7 linked regions of the Homo sapiens genome follow. The protein of the gene in region 2 interacts with the protein of the main gene of each other region in a pairwise test. Each region holds a gene or a part of one and is shown on either strand. Other genes may lie near its edges. The genes, in order: HS1BP3, FGFR3, P3H3, BRPF3, SPRED2, MAOB and TSPAN2.

Region 1 (2,781 bases), on a different chromosome or scaffold from region 2:
GGAAGGCAAATGGGTGGAGCCGGTGCTGGAGCTGTCCCAGAGCTGGCTCAGAGCCCTGGGGAGGGAGCTGACCCTCTGAGCCTGGGTTAAGACGGAGGAGGAGGGAGTCAGCTCTCGACCCCAAAACCACCTGTTTCCTCTCACTCTAGCACTGGTGGAGGGGAAGCTGCTCAGGACAGGGCGCCACAGCTGGAGAGGGACGTGATCAGATGCAGGACAGAGCAGACAGGTCCTGGCACGGGCCAGGAGCTGAGACACTCAACACTGATGGCTGCAAACCACCCGCACCATCAGCCGGGGGCTCCCTCAGGGCTGGCTTTGGTGTCTATCAGAAAAGGGTCTGAGGTCCTAGTCCCACCCGCTCAATGCTTCTGCCAGGCAGGACAGGGCCAAGGAGCAATAGTGGTTGCATTTCCTTTAAAACTACTGTTTCATTAAAAAACAAAACAAAACAAAACAAAAAACTAGCTCTGAACATGAAGAATTATATCCAAGAAAGACACCTTGACATTTTTTGCTTTATTAAACATCATTCACTGAGAATTTCCAAAGCACTGTGTGGTGCCTAGACCTGTGTACCAGCGCTCTGGGGGTCGGGAGAAGTCTAAGGCACGGGCCCTGCCCTGGCGCACGGCTCCTTCTCCCTGGGAAGGCAGCTCCACTGGTGAAAGGCCACTGACCAAGTCCAGACCCTGAGGACGACGAAGGCCTCGGGGCAGAAGCCTGAGAGAATCATGCCCCACTGGCAGTGGGAGGCGGTGCAGGCTGGGAGCCCTGCCCAGGCCCCAGGCTGAGCTGTGGGGAAAGCTATGACCCAGTTTGCTGAGAGCTGCAATGACGAACATTGGCTCTGTGCCCAGAGGCCCAAGAAGGCCATGGACTGGGCTGGCCTTTCCTGGGAAAGGGGGAAGGAGGAAGAACTGGGGCCTAGCAGGGCCGTCTATACCCTGGAGAGGCAGGGCCTGACTTCTCCCTTTAGAGCTTGCATCAAGAGGAGGCTCAGGAGAGAGAGACTTGCATCAGAACACTCCAGACAGCCGATCTCCCACTCAGTATTCCTCTCCTGGGAGACCCACCCAGACCCTGCAGGCCCCTGGCAGCCACGAGGAGCAGAGGCCCTGGAGTAATTTGGCTTGGGGACGTCCCCACCCCAGGCCCAGGCCAGTCAGTCACCCAGGCTACAGCTTAGGGTAGGGGAAGGGGAGGATACCGGTCACTCCTTCTTACTATGCGAACAGAGGCAGAGGAGGGATAGAGGCCCAGCCCCAGTTTGGGTCTGTGCTGGGGCTGGCAGAACCCGTGGGCATGAAGCTTCCCTGCCCCATGTGACACCTCGCTACGGCCCCACATGTCTTGCTTCATCCTTGGGGCTGGGCTTCTGGTTGGCAAGGCATCCCCACACCCTCCCTCCCCTTCATGTCCACGGGGAATAAGACACATTGGGCTCTGGCTCCTAGGGTGAGAGCCGCTCCCGCAGCCCGCAGGCTTCTACTTTGGCCCCACAGCCCCGGAGAAAATGGAACCATGCAGTTCTGGGTGCTGTGACCCAGGCTTCTGCCTGGCCTCCCCTGGGGGTGGGGAGGTTCTGACCCTGCAGGGCCCAGTCCCTTCCCTTCACACCGATGTCCCCACAGACAGGCCTGCTGGGCCAGGGGCCAGCATGGAAGGGTCAGAAGAGGCTGGGGGCGGCCTGGGCTGGTGTATCGTGGTCCTGGATGTACTGCAAGATGTCCATCTCGTCCATGGCTTGGATCTGCTCCTGCGGCTTCTGCTGCCCAGCCACAGCTTCAGCCGGGCCCGCTTTGGGGGGAACAGCTGGTTTTCTGGGTATCACCGGCTTAGCTGCCACTGGTGGCTTGGGCTTAAGCTGGGGCTTGGGTTTGGGCTCAGCTCCCAGGTTCAGAATCTGGTCCAAGTCCTCTTCAACTCTAGGGAACCACAGGGAGGAACCCTGAGCATAACACTGCCACCCCGTGACAGGAACAAGACCCCAGGCAATGCCAGTGCCCACACGGGGCTGGGCAGCGGCAGGGAGCCCAGCCTCGGCCAGGTCAAGGCCCCGCCCTGCTCTGCCCCATTCCACTCTGGCCCCTCCACCCATCCTGCCCAGAGGAGACACGAAGGCCAGGGCTCTCCTTCCCTCCCACCCACAGCAAAGCAGGCACAGGGCAGGCCCCACGCAGCCTCCTGAGAGTTGCTCTTCAGGTGACCCCACTTGACACACGCTGCCTTCTGTAGGGGGCTTTCCCTCCAATCCCTTCAGAAATAACCACCAGCTACTATGTACAGAGTTCCCGCTCTGTACAGCACTTCAGACACGTTATCATATCTTATCCTCAAAACGCCACTCTGGGGAGGCATGACTGTGCTTCCATCACGCAGATGAGGACGCTGGAGTCCCAGGAGGCCGAGTGACCTCGAGGGGATGGTATGTGACAGTGCCTTTGTTGGAAGGAACAGGACATCGGCCCTTAGAAGCTGAGCCCTCATCCAAAGCAAGTTCAGCCAGAGAAAGAATAACCAGGGGCGCTGAGCCATGGTGGTACAGGCTTGGCCCGCCCACAGTGCCCCGCTGTGGGCCACACGGGTGCCAGACGGAACCCAGTGAGAGCTGAGGATGGCCTCGGCCAGGGCCCACCAAGACTCTGTCATGACCCCAGACCTCTAATCTCCCACTGGTGGGTGGGCAAAAAGCCCTGGCAGTGTTACGGTCACTCAGGACCATCCCTGGGTACTGAGGGCAAGAAACAGGCCAGGCCACTGATTCTCCAGAACTTGATT
Region 2 (3,037 bases):
ACACGTCACTCTGGTGAGTGTAGACTCGGTCAAACAAGGCCTCAGGCGCCATCCACTTCACGGGCAGCCGGCCCTGGGAGGGTGTGGGAAGGCGGTGTTGGCGCCAGGCGTCCTACTGGCATGACCCCCACCCCCGCACCCCAGGGCCGGGCTCACGTTGGTCGTCTTCTTGTAGTAGTCGAGGTTGTGCACGTCCCGGGCCAGCCCGAAGTCTGCGATCTTCATCACGTTGTCCTCGGTCACCAGCACATTGCGGGCAGCCAGGTCCCTGTGGATGCACTGGGGAAGGGGTGGGAGGCAGGGCTGAAGCCTCTCCACCTCTCCCCGCTGCTCCCAGCATCTCAGGGCAGGGCCCAGCCTACTCCACCCACACCTGCCGCCCTGCCCACCTTCTGGGAGGCCAAGTACTCCATGCCCCGGGCCACCTGGTAGGCACAGGACACCAGGTCCTTGAAGGTGAGCTGCTCCTCGGGCGGCTTGCAGGTGTCGAAGGAGTAGTCCAGGCCCGGGGGCCGCCGCGCCCGCAGAAACTCCCGCAGGTTACCCTTGGCCGCGTACTCCACCAGCACGTACAGGGGCCCTGGGGACACGGGCTCCTCAGACGGGCTGCCAGGCCCAGGAGGGCCGCCCAGCCGGCACCACCGCCGCTACCGCACCTACCGCCCTGCGTGCAGGCGCCCAGCAGGTTGATGATGTTTTTGTGTTTCCCGATCATCTTCATCATCTCCATCTCAGACACCAGGTCCGACAGGTCCTTGTCAGTGGCATCGTCTGTGCACGGAGCGGGGGGCCTGTGTCAGGCGGCGGCGGCGCCCCCAGCCCTGCTCTGCACCCCTGGCCGCCCCCTCCTCACCTTTCAGCATCTTCACGGCTACGGTGACAGGCTTGGCGGCCCGGTCCTTGTCAATGCCGATGGCCTCCGCCATGACCACCTGGCCGAAGCAGCCCTCCCCAAGGGGCTTGCCCAGGGTCAGCCTGGCAGTGGAGGCAGAGGGACCATGAGTGTGCAAACTCGCCCACTCTCAGCCCACCACGGTCCCCACCCCAGCCTGGCCCAGCCCTTGAGGCCCAGAGCCACCACCTCCAGGAAGCCCTCCATGCTCCCCCTACAGCCTGCTCGTAAGGACGAAGAGTGTCACCCACAGCCTCCCGCCCTTGCTGCCCCTCCAGACAGGGCACCTTGAGAGGGGCAGTCCCTGCCATACACCCGTCCCAGGAGCATCTCCACAGAACCCCAGCCACACCCAACATCCGCCACATCCCTGACGGCCCCTAAACCCAGCCGGGCCTCTGACTGGTGGCTGTTTCACCCCCACCACCAAGCCCCCTACAGCCAACGCTGGCCCTCAGCACCACTGACCGGGCCCGAGACAGCTCCCATTTGGGGTCGGCAGGCAGCTCGAGCTCGGAGACATTGGCCAGCGTGGGGCCCTCCCCTGAGGACAGCCTTGCGATGCGCACCAGTGGTGTGTTGGAGCTCATGGACGCGTTGGACTCCAGGGACACCTGCTTGGGTCAGCAGGGGCAGGTTGGCGCCGCGTGGGCGACAGGGCGTGGAGGTACAGCCGGGGGTCAGTGCTGGGCCAGAAGGGGGGGCGTTCTGACTTCCACCAGCATTGAATGAAGATTTTTAGAATGTTTCGTGCCCCAAAGTACCCTAGGCTCTACATGGTGAGCAGAGACGAGGAGAGGGGAGCCCGCCTGGCTGCAGAGAGGGCTCACACAGCCCAGGACCAGCGTGGGCCGAGGTGGGGCTCCAGGAGGCCTGGCGGGCAGGCAGCTCAGAACCTGGTATCTACTTTCTGTTACCTGTCGCTTGAGCGGGAAGCGGGAGATCTTGTGCACGGTGGGGGAGCCCAGGCCTTTCTTGGGGGGGCTGCGCAGGCGGCAGAGCGTCACAGCCGCCACCACCAGGATGAACAGGAAGAAGCCCACCCCGTAGCTGAGGATGCCTGCATACACACTGCCCGCCTCGTCAGCCTCCACCAGCTCCTCCTCGGCTGCAAAGACATGGGCGTTGAGGCCTGGCCTGGCCCCCCCCCCCACGGGGCTCCCATGGATGCCCCTGGCCCAGAGCCGCAGGCACCACTGGGAGCGGAAGGGGGCTCAGAACCTCAGCACGCGCCTTGTCTGGAGGGTCTCGCAGTCAGTAACGCCAGTGAGTCTAGAGGGCCAGACCCTGGAGAGAAGGAGCCCAGCAGAGCCAGCCAGTCCCACACCGCCACCAGGCGCCCGGGAGACACCAGAGCCACAGGAGAGGCCTTTGGGGACCCAGATGGGAAGTGGGCTCGAGGGGGCTGAGGGGGCCCCTCTGGGACCAGGACCGGGCCAGGCCAACTTTGTCCCCACACTGGGCACAGGGCCAGGAGTGAGGGCTCAAGAAGCGGGACGGCCGTAAGTCACAGGATTCCCGTCCGTCCTGGCAGCTTTGGCGTGTCCCGAGCCAGCGTCCCCCAGACAGTGCGGAGCAGCAGCAGCAGCAGAAGCCGGTACCTGGCAGCACCACCAGCCACGCAGAGTGATGAGAAAACCCAATAGAATTGCCCGCCAGGCAGGTGTACTCCCCGGCGTCCTCAAAGGTGACGTTGTGCAAGGAGAGAACCTCTAGCTCCTTGTCGGTGGTGTTAGCGCCCGCCGTCTACAAAGAGAGAGCAGAGCGATAGGCGAGCGCCAGCACCGCCCTGCGGGCACCGCACAGAGTCCACACGGCAGGATCCAGCCGCTGCAAGGAAAACGCCGCCACCACCAACTCCTCAGCCACCGCCAACTTGGTCACCGCCACGCGGCTGAGGGCCCTCCGCCTGGTACACCGGTACTGAGCCCGAAGCCAGGCCCCTCCACCGGCGAGTCCTCTGTCCCAGGTGAGCGGCAGGCGGGCAGGCAGCATGCGGGTTAGCGCAGAGCCGGGCGGGTGCAGGTGGAGGATGGACACAGGGACACACAGGCTGCGGAAGCGAGCAGGCAGCGGGCAGGGGTGGAGAGAGGCGCAAAGGGGTGCTCACAGACGGCACGGAGCCGGCCCGGTGGGCACCGGGCA
Region 3 (4,177 bases), on a different chromosome or scaffold from region 2:
GAGCGACAAGGTCAGGGGTTGGGGGATGAATACTTAGAGCACATTGATCCTTGGGGCAGAGGCAGTGCTGGAGAAGGTGGTCTCCAGAGGCCAGACAGCTAACTCCAAGAGCCCCCTTCCCACTGGCAGACAAGTTCAGCTGCCGGTTCTTTCAAACACTGGTGCAAACATACCTTAGCTGGAGAGTTCAAAGAAGAGCAAGAGGGGGGAAAATAAAGGAAGGTGAGAAGCAGCAAGGCAGAAGGAAGCCCATCTCCTGAGCTTGTCACAGGCGCCAAAGGAGGGCAAATTAGAGTCCTTGTGAAGTGATGGTTCCCATGCAGCCCTGACAGTGAAACTACAAATCCAGAGACAGATGGGAGGGATAGAGAGATGGAGCTCAGGATAGCAGCAGAGGCAAATCTTCACTCCCCGTTTCCACCCTTCCCCAACTGACCCTGAGCATGGGCCTCATGTAGCCGCCTCAGCTGGTTGGGAAGGAAGTCTGGGACAGGGAAGCTGCGACCAGGGCGTGTGGCTGTTTCCCCCACACAGCGTTGCCGGCACTGCAGGACCTGAATCCAGTGTCCTGCAGAGGAAACCCATAAGCCATTCAGCTTGTTCATGCCCCTCCCTGGGCACCGACCCACCCCCTCACACACGGGACCCTTACCTGCAATGGCCTCATAGAGGCCCCCCTGGCTCGCAGCCCCATCCTCCTCTTCTTCAGCCCCCTGCTGCTCCTCAGGCCCCTCACAGTCAGCACGGCAGCTCTCCATCTGGGCCAGGCTCCCCTGAAGAGCCTCCTCTAGCCTGGGCAGTGCCAGTCCTGCCTCCTGGCGCCCCAGTAGCTCCAGGCCAGTGTCATAGGCTGCCTGTTGGGGAAGGGAGCAGTCAGTCACCTAAGATCCAGGGGTTGCCAAACTGGGAGGTAGAGAGGAGAGGGGTGTTGGTCTCATTTGGGGCAAGGACTCCATGTCCCTCTTCACCGTGGAGAAGAATAAGGGTGGGCCTCAGAATCATAATGTTAGAACATCAGATTTCAGTGATCATCCAGGAAGGAAACGAAGTCCTAGAGAAGGACTCCCAGCCAGGGTCGCTGAGGATCATTACCCCATCTGTATGCTCAAGCAGCACAACGCACAGTTTAGTGAGGCCTGTGTATCCAGCCAGGAAAAGGCTGGTGGCAAGACAGGGGTGGTGCTGGGATTCTCACCCAGTGTGGGGGCGTCTCCAGGTCCCGGAAGCTCTGGGGCCGAACTCCCGACATTCGTCTGTACTTAGCCATGTCCTCCCGCATCTGCAGGTGCATGGGGTTTGCTACAAAGAAGGTGTGTGCTGCCGCAGCTGCCAGATCCAGCTTCTTCAACTGAGGAGGCGAAGGGAGGAGGGCATCAGAGCCCTGGGACGGGGGGCAGACCTCTGCCCCCTGGCCAGCCTCCCCACCCTACCCCAGACACACACTCTGGGTGCCCCAGAGCCTCATGGAAGACTGGCCAATCAGAACCGCCCACCGCCCGAACTGCAGATCCCCTAGAGGCCAGAACGTTGGGACTCTCAGAAGGCTGGCACCGAGGGAAAGGGGATCTAAAGACGTCGGAGTTGGGTGGGACATGGGTCTCAGGACTTCAGGACCTCAATTTGGGAGACCAGGTGGAAGTGATGGCTTAAGTGAGGTGGGGAAGTGGGGGAGACCTCAGCGACCAGCAAAACCCGCAGGTCTCTAGGACCCTGAGCTGAGGTGAGTACAACCGGCGCCCCGCTTCCCCAGCCACGTAGGCAACTGCTGCGGTACCGGCGGCTGCGGCGTGCTGTCCCCTCCCCGCCCGCAGAGGTCTGGCCTCGGAGGACCCCAACCTTGCCTCCGTCTGCTCCTTCCTTTCCGAAGCTACCTCCTGCCCCAAGCGAAGGTTCACACTCACCACCACCCCCGACACACACACACACCCACGCACACTTCCCGTCCGAGAGCCGGTTTCGCCCCCACCGCCTCCGCTTCATTCCTAGGAAGAGGCGGCCCTGTCCCTCCATCTTCGATCTGCTCCCGTCCCACCTCACGACCTCCCCGCCCCATTCCCATTCTGCTCGCACTCCCCCTCGGCTGCTCCTCTGCGATCTCAAGAGGTCCTCGCGGTCGCTTAGCCAGCTCCTACGCAGAGGCCCGCGGTACGCTCCCCAGCCCCGTGCGGGGCCCGGGCAACAGCATTCCGCCTACTCCTGGGCAACGCAAAGTAGGACAGCGTCGTGGTGAGGGCTGGGACCCTCGGAGCTGCCCGGCCCGCTCCCCACCTGGTAATAGGCCCTCTGCAGGTAGTTGTAGGGCTCCCGACGGCGGAAGGCGTCCCGGAGCGCGCTCCCCACGCGAAGCCGCGCCGCGCCCCCGGGGCCCAGCCTCCGTGCTGCGCACTGGGTCAGGCAGTCTGCGCGGCGGAGCGCTGCACGGAGAAGCTGTCGCTCCCAGGACCCCTGCGTGGGTCCCGGCCCGGAGTCGGGCTCCGGGGCCCCGAGAAGCACGGCGGGGAGCGCGGCGCCCGGATCGGCCGCGCAGCTCGCCCCGCAATCCAGCCGCACCCGGCCCAGCGCCGCCTGGCTCCGCAGCGCCTCCCGCAGCAGCGCCACGGCCGGCGCCCAAGCCCCGGCCGCGTAGGCGCGCAGCCCGTCAGCGTAGAGCAAGTCGGGGGCCTGCGGGGGCGCCCCCGGGGACAGCTGGGTCAGGCCGGGGGGCTCAGGGGACCCCGGGGGAGGCAGCAGCAGCAGTAGCAGCAGCGGCCGGAGGAGCCGGAGCATGATGTCGGAGCCGCCGGCAGCCGAGGGGAAATGCGGGAGCCGAGAGGGAGGGAGAGGAAAGGGGGGAAGGGGAGGGAGGGGGAGGAAGGAGAGATGGAGAGGCGGAGGGAGAGGGAGAAATAATGAGGGAGGCCGAGAGAGAGAGAGAGAGAGAAGATGGGGCTGAGACCCGATGGTGGGAGAGGCCCATGTGAAAAGATGGAGAGAGAAGAGTGCTGAGTGGACAAAGCTGGTCTAGTGTGGAATAAGAGGGAGAAACTGGGAGGAGGAGGGCAAAAGGCGGGAACTGGAGCAGGCCTGGGCATCCATGAAGGATGACTTCAGCCCCAGCGGTGACTTCAGCCCCTGAGGTCTGGGGGTAACTACTGGGGCTGTGTTCCCTCCACACACACGCTTCTGGGTCCAGAAAAAGGAGTGTGGACGCCGATCCCCCCCTCGCCCCCCCCCACCCCCCCACACTCATCCACCCCTGCACTCCCACCCCCCCACACTCATCCACCCCTGCACTCCCACCCCCCCCACACACTCATCCACCCCTGCACTCCCCCACACACACACTCATCCACCCCTGCACTCCCACCCCCGCCCACACACACACTCATCCACCCCTGCACTCCTTTGGAGAAAGAGCTTTAAAATGCAGCAAGGAGGAGGTGTCCAGGCCCGGGACACTGCATCAGCCCCAAAACCTTTCCTGCCCATAAAGTGAGCCCCTGCATGGATTTGAGGTTAGAAGGAGAGTTGGGCACTGGGGCTGGAGCCACGCTCTAAAACCACCTCAACAAATCTGAACAGAGATCCTTCATACCCCAACCAACGAAGATGTGTGTCCTCAAGCCCCGCCCCCAGCAGGATATGCTCCTCCCAGCCTTCCCTGTGCGAGGCTGCCTGGTGGAGCATGTGATCATTTCTCCATGTGTCCTTCTGTGCCTCTGTCTGCTGCCCCTGCTCTGTCGTGTCCCCTGTGAGCCACTCCACCCTCCAAGCCCCTTTCCACCGCAGTACACTGGACACTGAGGTTTCCATGGCAACACTTCAGACTTTAATACATATTGCTAGGGGTGATGGAAGCTGAGTAGGGCATCTGGTCACTTGGATGGGAGAGAGCAGGGCCTTCTGAGCCCCAAATCTAGCGCCCGTCTCCCCAGAGTCTGGAGGCAGCTGCCCTACTCTCGGCCAGAATGAGGTGTTACTCACTCAGGCTTTCTCCTCTGAGTTCAGCAGGCCTGCTTGGGCTCACAGGGTCAGCTGGGGAAAGATGGGGTTGCCTGGGCCCCAGGATCCTCCCCAAGCCCTTGCACTTTCTTCACCCCCCGTCAGGGAGCAGCGTCTCCCTGCGCTTAGTCCCAAAGGAAGTCCAACGGCTCTGCTCTCAGGGGACCCAAGGGAGAGTCGGCGGGGTGAGAGGCCC
Region 4 (2,773 bases), on a different chromosome or scaffold from region 2:
GCTGGGAGAGAGAGTTTTGATCAAATTACACACCTGGTGGGTGGGGTAAGGTGGTTCTTCCTTAGAGTAAACTCCTAACCAGAACAGCTGCTTTCAGCTGCTTATCTTGAGAGGGATGTAGTGAAATTGGCAGACAAGCAAAGGTAAATAATGAGAGCAGTTTATTGTAAGAAGGGGCCCACTGGGACAGCGTATAGGAAGTAAGATTGCTCTGTCTCTGGAGAAGGCTGCTTCCTCAGTAAGTTCCTAGTCTTTGCTCCCAGAGCTATTAGCTGTCTGCTCTGGAAGCAGGGGCTGTGTAGGAGGCAGTGGGCTGTGGAGGCCCAAGCCTTGTTTGGTTTTAGTACCAATGTGGTTTTAGCCAGCTACATTCTGCTTCTGTGCTTGGTGTTTTCCTCTTGTCAGCTAACACCTGTTAGCAGACTTCTCAGCATCAGCAAGAGATTGAAATGAGATGATGTGTGAATAATTAGGAGCTTTGGAAACTTTGAAAGTGCTCCCTAGACCTGGATTTTGATTGTTGTGTTGATGCTGCCAGGCATTTTGCTGAGCACCTGCCGTCTCTGAGCCAGGCAAGGTGGGGCTGGATGCCAGAAGCAAACCTGAAGGAGAAGGGCCCAGCTGCTGCCCTTGTGGAGCTTATTGCCTCAAGGATTAATGCCTCCAGTGGCCCTTGTTTCCACCCACATCATACCCCCCTCTCCATCAACCTCCAAGCTCATTCTCTAGCTATACACTGAGCCTCCTCTCTGATCTTACCATGGAGGTGTCACAAATATATCTGGTCCATGTATCAGGAAGGATTGTAGTCAGACAGGAAGGTAGTGGGTAACCAGAGACCTCGTTAGAACCAACTGGATGGCCTTCCCGATGCAAAGCCTTCTTCATAGCCGTGGTACCTAGGGAAGGCCCCCAAACATTTGAGGTGAATTGCAAAGGTACTAAGGGGAAATTGACAGGAAAAAAAAAGTGACCTCTACTCTTCTGTCCTAAGGGACATTGGAGGAAGGGGTTTGCCTGTCTGGTCTGGACATCAAAGATATCCCACTCAGGCCTGATACTCCCCTGGTGTGGGTGCTTCAGCAGTTGGTCCTGCAGCAGGGGCACTGCTCACCCTGGCCTCCCTCACTGAGTGCCCATCTTCTATTCTGCCTCCAGATCATCGATCCCAAGATGCCCCGGGAGGGCCTCCTGCACAATGGCGTTCCCATCCCTGTCCCCCCGCTGGACGTGCTGAAGCTGGGAGAGCAGAAACAGGCAGAGGCTGGAGAGAAGCTCTTCCTTGTCCTCTTCTTTGACAACAAGCGCACCTGGTTAGTGGGTGCTGCTGTGAGGGGGCTGAGGGGCACGCCAGGGGTCTGTGCCAGTGGTGCTGTGCTAGTGAGGTGTACAGAGGGGCCATGGATGTTACCAGTTACCCTGGTCTCCACTTGCCAGCAACAGGCCTGCACTTGGCATGTTAATAGTAACTGAGGGGTGTTGCAGATCAGATTCCCTGGGAAACACTCTGAGGTCGAGACTTGCATCAGGAGGCTATTGAGGAGAGCTGTGGGGCGGGAGCGATGCAGCACTGGGCAGAAGTTGAACTACAGCCCACTTGCTGCCTCAGCTCATCCACTGGGCACATCTGGAGCTGGGTGGCTCAACAAGATAAGAGATGTCAGGAATTGGGCCTGTGCCTTTTTGCCCTGTGCCAACTAGTTATTCAATGCCACTGCCCTGAGGGAGGGGTGTGGCCTGGGCCTGAGGCTTCCATGGTGGAGAGTGATTCCTAGAGAGGGACTCAGATGAGAGCCTGTGAGCTTCCAGCACTTCCAGTAGCTTCTGGGAAGCATGTTTCCGTCCTGAGGGGGGTTCTGGCCAGTGCAGTGTCCGCTACAGGAGACTTGCTCATTTATGGTTTACAACACTTAAGGTTTCTCTTAGCACCAACAAGAGAGTGCTTTCACCTTAGCTTCTATAGAGTGAGGAGGGAGAACTAGCTAATAAAAACAGTGATAATAGTAGCTGCCATTGAGTGCTTACTCCATGTCCTTATGCAGATTGCTTTATATATCTGATCTCTTTTAATCCTCATTTAAGTCTTCATTAATCCCCTCATAATCCATTTTGCAGATGAGGAAGTTGAGGCTCAGAAAGTCCAGACCCTGTAGCCAGAACTAAGATACAAAACAAGATCTTGCTCCAAAGGCTGTATCCTTAGCCACATGTTATATTCACCCGGGGAGCTTTAAAAACACATACACAGTGTGCAGGTCCCACCACAGATGAGTTTATCAGTTCCTGGCATCAGCTCTACTTCCTAGCCATCGCCCCCTAATTCTCCAACGCAAGGCGAGGCTCAGAGCCCTCCAGGGTGGCTCAGCTGGCCCCAGAGGGCAGCAGGTGGGCCTTTCTTAGCCTATGGACCCTTACAACTCTCCAAACAGAGTAAGGGCCCAGAGAAGGACCTAGCTGCAAAATTGATTCCATGCCATTCCCCCACCCGACTCCTGCATATCCTGCTTGCTGTCCTCACCTGCTAGGTTCTTGGTGGCCTCCTGCATGGAGTCCCCCAATTTGCTTCCCTCTGCCCTGTACCCTCTCCCTGGCTTTGCTGGTCCTGGCCAAGTGGGGCCACAGGAGCCCGAGCCCCCTGTGAGACCCACTACTGCCCAGCCTCTTACTGTGCTTGCATTTCAGGCAGTGGCTTCCAAGGGACAAAGTCCTGCCCTTGGGTGTGGAAGACACCGTGGACAAGCTCAAGATGCTGGAAGGCCGCAAGACCAGCATC
Region 5 (3,500 bases), on a different chromosome or scaffold from region 2:
ACATAATTTTGCAACTGGGGCCTAAGTACATTCTAAATTCAAGTTATTCCGATTCACAGTATATCACACTCCAAATCAACACCTATAATCTAGTATCCCCAATTTTCCTTAGTACAAAAGACATCTTAGAATGGACGGTAAGGTCTTCAAAGGTTTTTTGTTGTTGTTTTTTATTTTAACAAACAGCAGAGTACTGTTCTGAAGTGTGCTCACACACAGATCAATGAGAAGGCAACCAATTATTAGGCCTTCAGGGCCAGAGGTGAGCTGTTGAGCCCAGGCACATCATTCTAGCAAGGCAGATTTGCTTTGCGAGTCTGAGCCTGAGAAAAAAATCAAACTTGACTTAACCTTTAAGCAAAAGGGAGAAATGTAATAACTATATTAAGACTATAGTCACACTTACGCTGCTTTAAAAGATCTATAAAAATGAGTAAAATTACTGGGATGTTGATAAATTAAACCTCTAGTCTAGCACTATGTCTGTATTCCCACTCCATCGTCCACTTTATTCCTTGGCTGGAAAAATAAAATGAAATGCCAAACATGGCATTCAAGTAGACAAAACATGTCATAAGCCAAGTGACTCCTAAGAGGATGGTCAGTCCCACCCATCCACACCAAGCCTACTGACTTTTGTTTTAGAGAGAATTTGAATGCTGCTGGTAATAAGGTATCTAGACCACATATCAGGAATGGCGTAGGGATGGCAGGGGAGCCAAGGATGCTATTACAGGTAGGTACTCTTACCCTAAGAGAACAGACAAGCTATAAAACTCAGAATCTCAAAAAGCACAGCCAACTGGGATCACTGAGTAAAGGGGCCAATGGTCAGCTGGGCATTATTGATTATCACAGTACAAAAACTACCAGGACACCATTAGAAAGCCAAAAGAAACAGTCAGTCTTAGAACATGACTTCTAAATCCTAATTATCCTCCCACAAGCTCCCTGAGGAGCCTTGAGCAAGTCATTTCAGCTCTCTAAGGTACAAAGTGAAAATCTTGTTTCCTGCCTTGTAAAGTTCATGGATCTCCTCTGCCTTGTAAATTCTGAAAAGAAAGAACACCTTATTACATGATGGGGGACAGACCTGGGGTAGATGGATGCTACTGAATCTCAATTTCTCAGGTGCTGTGCTAAAATGTTTTACCAAGGCTACCTCATTTATGCTTTTTTTTTTTTTTCTTTGAGATGGAGTTCTGCTCTTGTTGACCAGGCTGGAGTGCAATGGTGCAATCTCTGCTTAGCACGATCTCTGCTTGGCATAACCTCCGCCTCCCAGGTTCAAGCGATTCTCCTGCCCCAGCCTCCCGAGTAGCTGGGATTACAGGCATGTGCTAGCATGCTCAACTAATTTTGTATATTTAGTAGAGATGGGGTTTCTCCATCTTGGTTGGGCTGGTCTCGAACTCCTGACCTCAGGTGGTCGGCCCACCTCGGACTCCCAAAGTGATGGGATTACAGGCATGAACCACCATGCCTGGTCCATTTCTACTTTTTAACAGCCTATTAGGTATACAGCAGAATGAACCTCATTTACATTAATCCAGGGCTGGTGGCTTGGGATACTTAGCAGGGTCCCTTAGTGGCAGGGGAAGAGGTACGGTCTCACTCCAAAGTCCATGATTCTTCCACTACCATCATGGCAGCCTCTCCTTTAGTAGTTTTGAAAAAGCAACTCAAAGTCTTTTTTGGATATAGGTATCCAAAAAAGATAATTGTTAAATTGTGAAAAATTGTTAAATTTTTATACACGGTACAATTATTTTTTCAATTAATGAATAGTTACTTCAACCAATTGATAACTGTTTACAGAAAGCCTACTATGTGCTCAGTGTTCTGCCAGGCCATGGGTATGAGGGTTAATAAATTATTCTCAAAGGGCATGGTGGTGTACACCTGTGGTCGCAGCTACTTGGGAGGCTGAGATGGGAGCACTGCTTGAGCCCAGGAGTTCAAGGCTCCAGTAAGCCATGATTGCACCCCTGCACTCCAGCCTGGGCAACAGAGCAAGACCCCATCTCTAAAAAAAAAGTAATAAAAATAAAAGATAAAGCTATTCCCATGCCAGGTGCAGGTGGCTCATGCCTATAATCCCAGCACTCTGGAAGGTCGAGACAGGAGGACTGCTTAAGGCTAGGAGCTGAAGGCCATCCTGGGCAACGTTAAGAAGACCTCACCTCTACTAAAAATTTAAAAATTAGCCAGGTGTGGTGGCGCACACCTACAATCCCAGCTACTCAGGAGGCCAAGGCAGAAGGATCACTTGGAATACTCCAGCCTGGACAACAGATCAAGAGTCTGTTTCAAAAACAAACAAACAAACAAACAAACCTATTCCCACACCTAGAAAGACAGATGGGCCAAGCTTCTCTGTGCATTCTCAGTTAGTATGGATGCAAATACAAAATAAACAGTGCGTATCTGAAAAGTCAGTACTGGAGGCCAGAGCCAAAGCAAAGCAGTAAGAAAAAGAAACAAGAGGAATAAATAATGAAAATGAAAAGACAAAGATGTCATTACCAGATGAACAAATGAAAGTCAATTAAAAACTTAACTGATAATTAAGTTTTAAGCATTTATAAATGGACCACAGGAAATATATCAAAGAATAAAAACAACCAGATCTGAAAAATCGTTATTTCAGGACACAGAGGAGCCAAAACCATACATTTTAGAAGCTCCCAATATTTGTTCTAATCTCTTCAATCACAAGTGTTAAATGCTAAGGGTGAAGTCAAAATCTGTTTCTTTACCTTTACCCTCTAAGTGCAAGTAAACACAGAAAGTTTGTTTTTAAATAAATATTCAACTACCCTTTGAGAGTAGCAGGAAGAACATAAGCACAATTTGATAATACGTGTGCAATATGCCACATGTGAACATAATGTTGATAAAGGTTACATGAGAAAGGGAAATGGGTAGTTATGAAACAATTGTTACTTAATTTAGCAAACTCCCATGATCCTGGCCTGACTTTCTTTCCATGACATGGGACATATGTCAAGATGTAACAATCCTTCATGTCTATCCAGGGAAAGCATATAAAAAATATATTTTGTTCCACGGGGCACTGGAGCATCAATACAAAATATTTCTTCTACTTCAAAGTCACTAAGAGCCCTAGAAAATGCCTTAAAAGCACCATCACAATGTTCTAGATTTAAATAGTAATTTTTAAATATTTCTAAGAATAAGTTATCAAGTTTATTGAGATGACGGGGTCTTTTTAAAAAACTCGGCCTAATTTACCTTAGTAAAAACAAGCCCAAACAAATAATCACATACACCAAAACTTTCTGGTCTGCCTCTATTATCACTTGTTCAATTTCTGAAAATTTTGCTGTTAGACTGTATTTGTGTTCAGCCGGCAATACAAGAATGATGCCAATATTGGAGTTCATCAGCACAGCTGTATCCACCCTCAAGTGTTAAGACTCCAGCAGAACCCTGCAGCTATTGAAAATTGTTAATACTGTGATTTCTGCAGAGATTCT
Region 6 (3,500 bases), on a different chromosome or scaffold from region 2:
AGACACCCTCTCTCTTTAGACTCTCACAAGTAGCCCCCTTTTGTGGGCCAGGAAGCCAAGAGCCGTTGCTGAAAAGATGGTGGTCAATCCAATCAGCCTGAGCAGGCCTGGCACGGAGGGCAAATGTCTCTCCAAAAAGGTGGTGGTGATGGGCTGTGCAGGGACATCCTAGGTTCAGAAAACATTGGGTATTAGTACAGGGCTTGTGCACTTTATTCCAGAAAGTCTGTACTTTCTCCAGCTCTCTGAACATGACCCATTCTTGCCAACGTCTAGACCAGTAAACACGATGTTCCCTCTGCTTATACTGTTTACCCTGTCTTCCTCACTGGACCCTTCACTTCCTCAGGGAGGCTTTCTTTCCTGAGACCCCAGCCTAGGATGACATTCTCCTTTTGCATTTTTTCTCAGCATGTCTTCTTCACTGTTCTGTACTTTTTGGTTATCATCTGCATTCTCCACCAGATGTTGAGCTCCACAAAAATGCTGCTGTGCCTTTGCCACAATGGCTGATACAGAACACGTGTGCCATAAATACTTGTTAGTAAATGAATCAATGGTCCCTACAGCCCACAATCCCATCCCTGGCAGAAGCACTAAGAGAATGACTGTGGAGTGGCAGGCCTATTCTCTTTGACTTCACACTTAAAAGGATAGAGCAATAATTCTGACCTTTGTGACTTTGTCCTCTAAAGTGCGTTTGCACTCTAACCTCTATGCATCCCTCCTTCCAGCCAGGAAAACTTCCTAGGATTTTATTACAAAAATGATGAGTATATTAAAAATAAAATTTTAATCTAAATATTCTCCATTTCATTCCATTTGTTTGTCCCTGGACAGGAGATGCTAACACACTTTCCTTTCTTTTCCTACCTCATGTGGAGAATCACCAGGCTAGATATTTATTTGACAGGCATTTATTGAGTTATTATTTTTAGAAGTCTCCGAGAAATGTCTCCCTCCTCATCAAAAAATATTTTTTCCTAATAATCTGTAATGAATGTGACAGCTACAAATTTATCAAAGTTCATCTAAATCTCTCACCTCTACCCTAACCCATGATACTTATTTAAACATTCATGTTTAAATCACTTAGTTGAATCACTTAGGAAAAGGTATGTGAATATATACAAGTGTGCTCTTCTTGAAAATAATGGGTTTAGAGAAAAGATATCTAATTTCATGAAATAAAACATAGCCTACCACAGACTCTGGTTCTGACTGCCAGATTTCATCCTCTGGAATCTTCCCCATGGCATGCAGGATCTGAAATGAAAGAACACACTGGCAAATAGCAAAAGTGACACCATCTTTCTTCTAATCTGCTCCCTAAAGGACTAAGTAACTGTCTCTTGAGATATCCATCAAAAACACCAAGGTAAAGGCCAGAACACTCCATACAACCTTTAAGAGGCGCCAAAAGGTCTTTCTCCTGTGGTATAAGAGGTTCCAATCATTAGGCTTACCATAAATTTTAATAGTTATGAACACACCTCAAATAGGGATGACATCAGAGGAACTGTCAGAAAATCTTTCCTGTGAAATGAATTGAATTTTGAGTCCTAATAGAAGCATGTTTGGTTCTAGAATATCAGACCTAGGTTACCTTTCAAGTATAGTCAGGTTGATCGTTTGCCCCATGGGCTCTTTTTACTTCGGGTGACATGTTAGGTATTTTCATTATTACTTCGGGCTAAGGTGTTCACTTCACCTGAGACAATAGTTAAAATAGTATTTTATGGGTCTTAAGATGGGGGTTACTGGAGAGTTGGTCTCCAGGCTCTCAGATATCTTTGACCTACATGTCAGGACCATGAGTTGCCTCCTTCCCCATAATCTATGACCCCAGACCCTACCTCTCGGGCTGCTCTCTCCCCGGCCTCTACAGCCCCCTCCATGTAGCCGCTCCAGTGTGTGGCAGTCTCGGTGCCTGCAAAGTAAATCCTGTCCACTGGCTGGCGTAGAACCCTTGGAACAAAACCAAAGAGGCAAAAGTGGTCAGTCTCAGAGAGTCAGAGAAAAGTTTTCCCATAAAGACCAATGCTGGTCAGCTTCCACAGATTCTAAACAATCAAGAAGGACATTGGCAATTTTGGAATAATGTTTATGTGGTTCCTCCAGCTCTTACATGATCCTTGTCACAAACAAAATAGAATAAAAGCCAAAGTTCACTCCTGCACCAAGAGTTGCAGGTGAAGGAGCTGACATTAATGGACGTAAATTATGTATTTGCTTCATCAACATGAAGTGAGGGACTGTGTAAGCCCAGTCACATGGCTCCCTTTATGGCTCACTGGCTCTGTGGCAAGGTGATACATGCCCCCAATTCCCCACTGGCTATTCCACTAGTGAACTTGGCAAATCACTTACTCTCACTGTGCTCTGGCTTCCTTGCCTCTTAAAGGGAATGGTCCACTGATTTCTAAGACCCTTTCAATCAGTAACATTTAACAAATCTGAGAGTCTGACTATGGCTCCATAACTCCTATTCCTTGAACACTTGCCTGTACTGGTGAGGTCGGTACTATTATTATCACCATTTTGCAGATAAGAATATGGAGGTAGACTGTGGTGGACATTGTGATGAACCACGCAGGCCCCCTTCAAGAATGAAAGACTTATTCCCAGCTGCTGGGAGTGCTGCCAGAAGAGGGCCTACTGATGTCAGCCCTCTTTGGAGATTGCCTCTGCTAAAAAAAACTATGTTACCTACTAGGTCATGCCTCCTTCCAATAGCAGTTGCATCCAGTGACTGATCACCACGGGCTGTAAATACCTGATTCCCAAGCTCCAACTTGAGACCTCCCACTCTGAAGGGCCATTCTAGTTCTGGAACTTCCTCTGGGGTCAGCTGAGGCCTTCACTGGAACTGCACTGCAGCCCAAGTTCTCCCTATGCCCACTCCTGCTTCCTTCTCCCTTCCACAGCTGCCAATCCTAAGGGCATGCCTTAATATATATCCTGTCTGCTAATCGTTGTTTCAGGGTCTGCTTCCTGGAACCTAACCAGCAACAAAGACAAAGTAATTTGCTCTCGGTCACAGCTAGTAAGTAGCAGAGTTGGTATTTGAACACAGGCAATCTGACTCTGGAACCTACAGTCTTAACCACTTAGTTATACTTCCTCTCTCTACTGCATTATTTCTTCAATCTATTAAAGAACTCTGTGATGTAGCTACTATTATCATTATCTCATTTTTACATATGAGAAGACTGAGGCTTGGAGAAATGTTCAGTGATATGCCAAGAGCCACACTCCTAGAAAATAGCAAAGCCAGGATTTGAACCATGTCTAACAGATGTCAAAGTCTCTATTTTTATCTTATATTCTTTGCCTGGTGTATCATCACCCTATAATATTTAATAGTTAGTAGACTGCCCACATGCTATACAAGGGACTGAAATGTCATAGCACTTGGCCTGTAAGAGGGGCAGTTCATTGTTGCTCTGACAAAAATACCATAAGGAAAGCACCGTCAACATGCCATTATTCATCCTGTC
Region 7 (3,500 bases), on a different chromosome or scaffold from region 2:
AAATAATAATAAAAGACAGTTAACTTCATATCCTGCTTTGGGTCTTTCAGCTCCTCAGGAAGCCTGCACTGCCAGTTACTTTTTTTCCTTCCTATACATTCAGCCTCTCCTTATCCATTGACATTTCTACTTATCCTATCACCATGCTCAGTTCTTCAATCAAAACAAACAAAACAACACTCGAGACTGTCCTCCTCTAGTTCTGCCATTAGGCCCTCCTTCCCTTCATTGCCAGCTTCTTTTTGTAAAAAACAAATGTACAAAAGGTATATTGGCTTTAGTCACAAAAGGAATACATGCTTCTTGTAGAAATCTGGAAAAGAGATTTTTTTTTTTTTAAAAAGAAATGTCTGTATTCTCACCATAAAAGGTAATAAATTTGTTGGTGATACTTACACACACAAACACACCTACACCCTTAGGTCATTCTTTATATTCAACAGTGAGCTTTTTAAACTTAATATTACAACTTTAAAAATGCCTTGTTTCACTAAAAATTTCTTTGAAATCATGATTATGATGATTATTTTTTTTTTTGGAGACAGAGTCTCGCTCTCTCACCCAGGCTGTAGTGCAGTGGCGCGATCTCGGCTCACTGCAACCTCTGCCTCCCAGGTTCAAGTGATTCTCCTGCCTCAGCTTTCTGAGTAGCTGGGATCACAGGCACATGCCACCACGCCTGGCTAATTTTTGTATTTTTAGTAGACGGGATTTCACCATGTTGCCCAGGGTGGTCTTAAACTCCTGAGCTCAGGCAATCTGCCTGCCTCTGCCTCCCTAAGTGCTAGGATTACAGGTGAAATCATGATTCTTAATGGTGGTAAAACATTTCATCATATGAATATACTACAATTTATCCAAACAATCCCCTATTGCCACATATTAAGGGTCTGTCCAGTGTTTTGTTCTTATGAATAACATGTAATGAGCATGATTTGCACAAAAACGTCTGTCTGCATTTCTGATTCCTTTTCCTTAGAATAAACTCCGAGAAGTGGAATTTCTGGATAGAAGGGCATAAACATACTTAATCCTCTAGTCTTACATAGTCATACTGACCTTTAAAACTATTTACTAATTTCTCTGAAAATGCTCACGACATCACGTTTACCAAAACTGTGTATTATTGTTAAGGGAAAGGAAAAACACTTGGTCAATTTCATAGATTAAACAACAGCATCTCTTCATTTTAATTTGCTATTGATTTTAAATATTACTTTTAATTTTCTATATTTTCTATATGTTTAATGGTAATTTGGACTTTGACTTTTGTAAACTTTCTTTCTGTGTCCTTGGCTCAAATCGAAACTTCTTGAAAGGATGCTCTCTCTCCTCACATCTCGCTCTCTGAAACCTGGGCTCTGTCCTCAATCCATCCCTCACAGCACGTCACCAGTTGGTTCCTTGCATGCTAAATCCTGCCAGCTTTTCAGCAGTTATTAGTAGACCTTCTTAGGCTTTCAGTTCCCCACACAAACCATGTCATTTCTGCCTCTGTGTTGTTGCTTACGCTGGTCTCTCGGCACGCAGGCCTCCCCCTCCCGCTTTCTGCCCAATGCTTGCATAATTACTTTCCATTCTTGAAGATTTAGCTGAGACATCATTACCTCTGTCAGCCTTCCCCATCCCCCAGCCTCTCGCCTCTCCTAAGTGCGTTTCCCTCTGTGCTTTCCGAGCACGTTGCACATTCCATGCATTCCTAATCACTGGACCGTATGGACTTCATGTTCATCCCTCCTATCAGACTGCAATGCAAGCTCCTTGTGAGTAGGAACTTTTTCTCCTTCTCCTTTGCATCCACAGTGCCGAACATAAGGTAGGCAGCTGATCAATACTGAATTGCCCTCAACAGCAGCACCTGGGCCTGGTGACCATTCCCTCCCCTTCCCGTGCTGTCTCCTCACTTGTGTCTGGCCGCCCCTCCCAGTTTCCTTCTTTGGCATCTCTTCTTTTGCCCACCCTTAAATTGTCCCCCAAGGATCTATCCTCATCCTTCTTTTCTTCCAAGTCTAATGGATCAAATCCGTATTTATAGCTTTAAGTTTCCCATCAAGTGCTGACACTCAGACCTCTCTCCTGAGCCACAAACCAGATTTTCCAACTGCCTACTGGATATTTCCATTTGGAAGTGCCACTGGCTCCTCAAAATCACCATGTTAAACACAAAGCTCATTTTCTTTTCTCCACAATTGGCTCCTTTTCCTCTCTCCCTCAGCTCCATAAATGACACCATCATCTATGTAGGTGGTGAAGCCAAAAACCCAGTAATGGATTCTCCTCTCTTCTCTGGTCACCACTCCTGTAGTTGTCACTTTCTAAAGGGCCCTCTTTAACATCTCTTGCTAACAACAAGGACAGCAGCCTTCCCAATGGGTCTCTCAGCTCAACGCTATTCATTTTCCATCAATCCTCTATGCTGCCACTAGAGCAAATTCAGTAAAATGCAGATCCCATCCGAGATTCTACCTTCAATGGCTTCCTAAGCTAGCAGCATGATACTACAGGTAGAGTAAGAACCTTGGTAGAAGCTTACCTTGTGTCCTAGAAGCTCCTTTGGGCATGTAGGTTGGACCTGTTCGGAGCTTTCTTTTCCACAGCACTGAAACTAGAGAGTCAGAAAAGAGACTTCAGGACCAGGCGGGAGGAGTAGCAGCTACAAGTCTGGGCACCCTGCTAAGGACTGGGGTGCCGAGGCGGCAAAGCAGCTCCGAGGCCCAGTCACTGCAACCCAGACTGCTATTTCTGGAAGGAGAGTGAAGAATCACATAATCATGCTGGCAAAACAAGAAAATGACTTCGCTAAAGCCATCTGAGTTTATGATGGGAAGTGACTCAAGGCAACCCAAACAAGGCAAGAAGCTAATTGACAGTGTCTGTGTAAATTGCTACTTTTTAGAAAGGGGTTGGGGCTTTAGATTCCTTCTTTCAGACTGGGAGTCATTTAACCTGCTGAGGAGCTCAAGTTTTATGAGCTGCAGAAGGACTCATTAGCTGGGAATAGTCTGGGGAAGAGGGGAGAAGTGGCTGCAGGAAATTCCAGGGTCCAAAAGACCAGATTTGAAGATTGGCCAGCAAACAGGTGTCCTGCTTAGGCTAGCTGGCCCTTTAAGACAAAAGAACCTGTGTGCTGCTTCAGGTCCTGGCGGCAGCTGAGGTGAAACCGTATAAATGTATAAATGGTGGCCACTTTCCAAGACATACTTGTCCTAGACAAGAACTAGGTACCTGAAAACACCTGGCCCAGGAATTCACAGCTACTTCTTCATATCACAGTGTCTAAAAAATCAGAATAACTCTGGCCTGGCCCATCTCCTCTGTAAGCCTTCTGTGATTAACTGCATGTAGCTCTGAGCACTCCACGGACAGCACAGTCCCACTGAATGTTCCAGAAGGGAGTGTAGCCATCTCCTGTGACCCTTCATTCTACAAATGAGGGAGCTGCGTGGGTATCAGGGAGGCCAAGTAACTTGCTCAAGGTCACAAGGCTGTTGAATGGTAGA

The links.
Region 1: the proteins of FGFR3 (region 2) and HS1BP3 interact in binary tests that used the Homo sapiens proteins (3 or more experiments, as listed by UniProt).
Region 3: the proteins of FGFR3 (region 2) and P3H3 interact in binary tests that used the Homo sapiens proteins (3 or more experiments, as listed by UniProt).
Region 4: the proteins of FGFR3 (region 2) and BRPF3 interact in binary tests that used the Homo sapiens proteins (3 or more experiments, as listed by UniProt).
Region 5: the proteins of FGFR3 (region 2) and SPRED2 interact in binary tests that used the Homo sapiens proteins (3 or more experiments, as listed by UniProt).
Region 6: the proteins of FGFR3 (region 2) and MAOB interact in binary tests that used the Homo sapiens proteins (3 or more experiments, as listed by UniProt).
Region 7: the proteins of FGFR3 (region 2) and TSPAN2 interact in binary tests that used the Homo sapiens proteins (3 or more experiments, as listed by UniProt).

The regions. Positions count from the first base shown.
Region 1 is NC_000002.12:20,617,318-20,620,098, forward strand, and holds the end of HS1BP3 (HCLS1-binding protein 3), read right to left. Parts: intron 1,929-2,781; coding exon 1,670-1,928; 3' UTR 501-1,669; downstream 1-500. UniProt on the Homo sapiens protein: May be a modulator of IL-2 signaling.
Region 2 is NC_000004.12:1,803,293-1,806,329, reverse strand, and holds part of FGFR3 (fibroblast growth factor receptor 3 isoform 1 precursor), read right to left. Parts: intron 2,639-3,037; coding exon 2,494-2,638; intron 2,001-2,493; coding exon 1,810-2,000; coding exon of another isoform or gene 1,804-1,809; intron 1,510-1,803; coding exon of another isoform or gene 1,507-1,509; coding exon 1,361-1,506; intron 976-1,360; coding exon 854-975; intron 772-853; coding exon 661-771; intron 581-660; coding exon 390-580; intron 280-389; coding exon 157-279; intron 74-156; coding exon 3-73; intron 1-2.
Region 3 is NC_000012.12:6,827,030-6,831,206, reverse strand, and holds the start of P3H3 (prolyl 3-hydroxylase 3 precursor), read right to left. Parts: upstream 2,801-4,177; 5' UTR 2,767-2,800; coding exon 2,269-2,766; intron 1,349-2,268; coding exon 1,196-1,348; intron 855-1,195; coding exon 653-854; intron 569-652; coding exon 437-568; intron 1-436. Other genes in the region: GPR162 (probable G-protein coupled receptor 162), read right to left, coding at 4,003-4,177. UniProt on the Homo sapiens protein: Part of a complex composed of PLOD1, P3H3 and P3H4 that catalyzes hydroxylation of lysine residues in collagen alpha chains and is required for normal assembly and cross-linkling of collagen fibrils.
Region 4 is NC_000006.12:36,227,744-36,230,516, forward strand, and holds part of BRPF3 (bromodomain and PHD finger-containing protein 3), read left to right. Parts: intron 1-1,158; coding exon 1,159-1,313; intron 1,314-2,115; coding exon of another isoform or gene 2,116-2,116; exon of another isoform or gene 2,117-2,682; coding exon 2,683-2,773. UniProt on the Homo sapiens protein: Scaffold subunit of various histone acetyltransferase (HAT) complexes, such as the MOZ/MORF and HBO1 complexes, which have a histone H3 acetyltransferase activity.
Region 5 is NC_000002.12:65,422,600-65,426,099, forward strand, and holds part of SPRED2 (sprouty-related, EVH1 domain-containing protein 2), read right to left. Parts: intron 1-3,500. UniProt on the Homo sapiens protein: Negatively regulates Ras signaling pathways and downstream activation of MAP kinases. Recruits and translocates NF1 to the cell membrane, thereby enabling NF1-dependent hydrolysis of active GTP-bound Ras to inactive GDP-bound Ras.
Region 6 is NC_000023.11:43,767,451-43,770,950, forward strand, and holds part of MAOB (amine oxidase [flavin-containing] B), read right to left. Parts: intron 1,969-3,500; coding exon 1,857-1,968; intron 1,267-1,856; coding exon 1,204-1,266; intron 169-1,203; coding exon 16-168; 3' UTR 1-15.
Region 7 is NC_000001.11:115,055,004-115,058,503, forward strand, and holds part of TSPAN2 (tetraspanin-2), read right to left. Parts: intron 2,606-3,500; coding exon 2,534-2,605; intron 1-2,533. UniProt on the Homo sapiens protein: May play a role in signalling in oligodendrocytes in the early stages of their terminal differentiation into myelin-forming glia and may also function in stabilizing the mature sheath.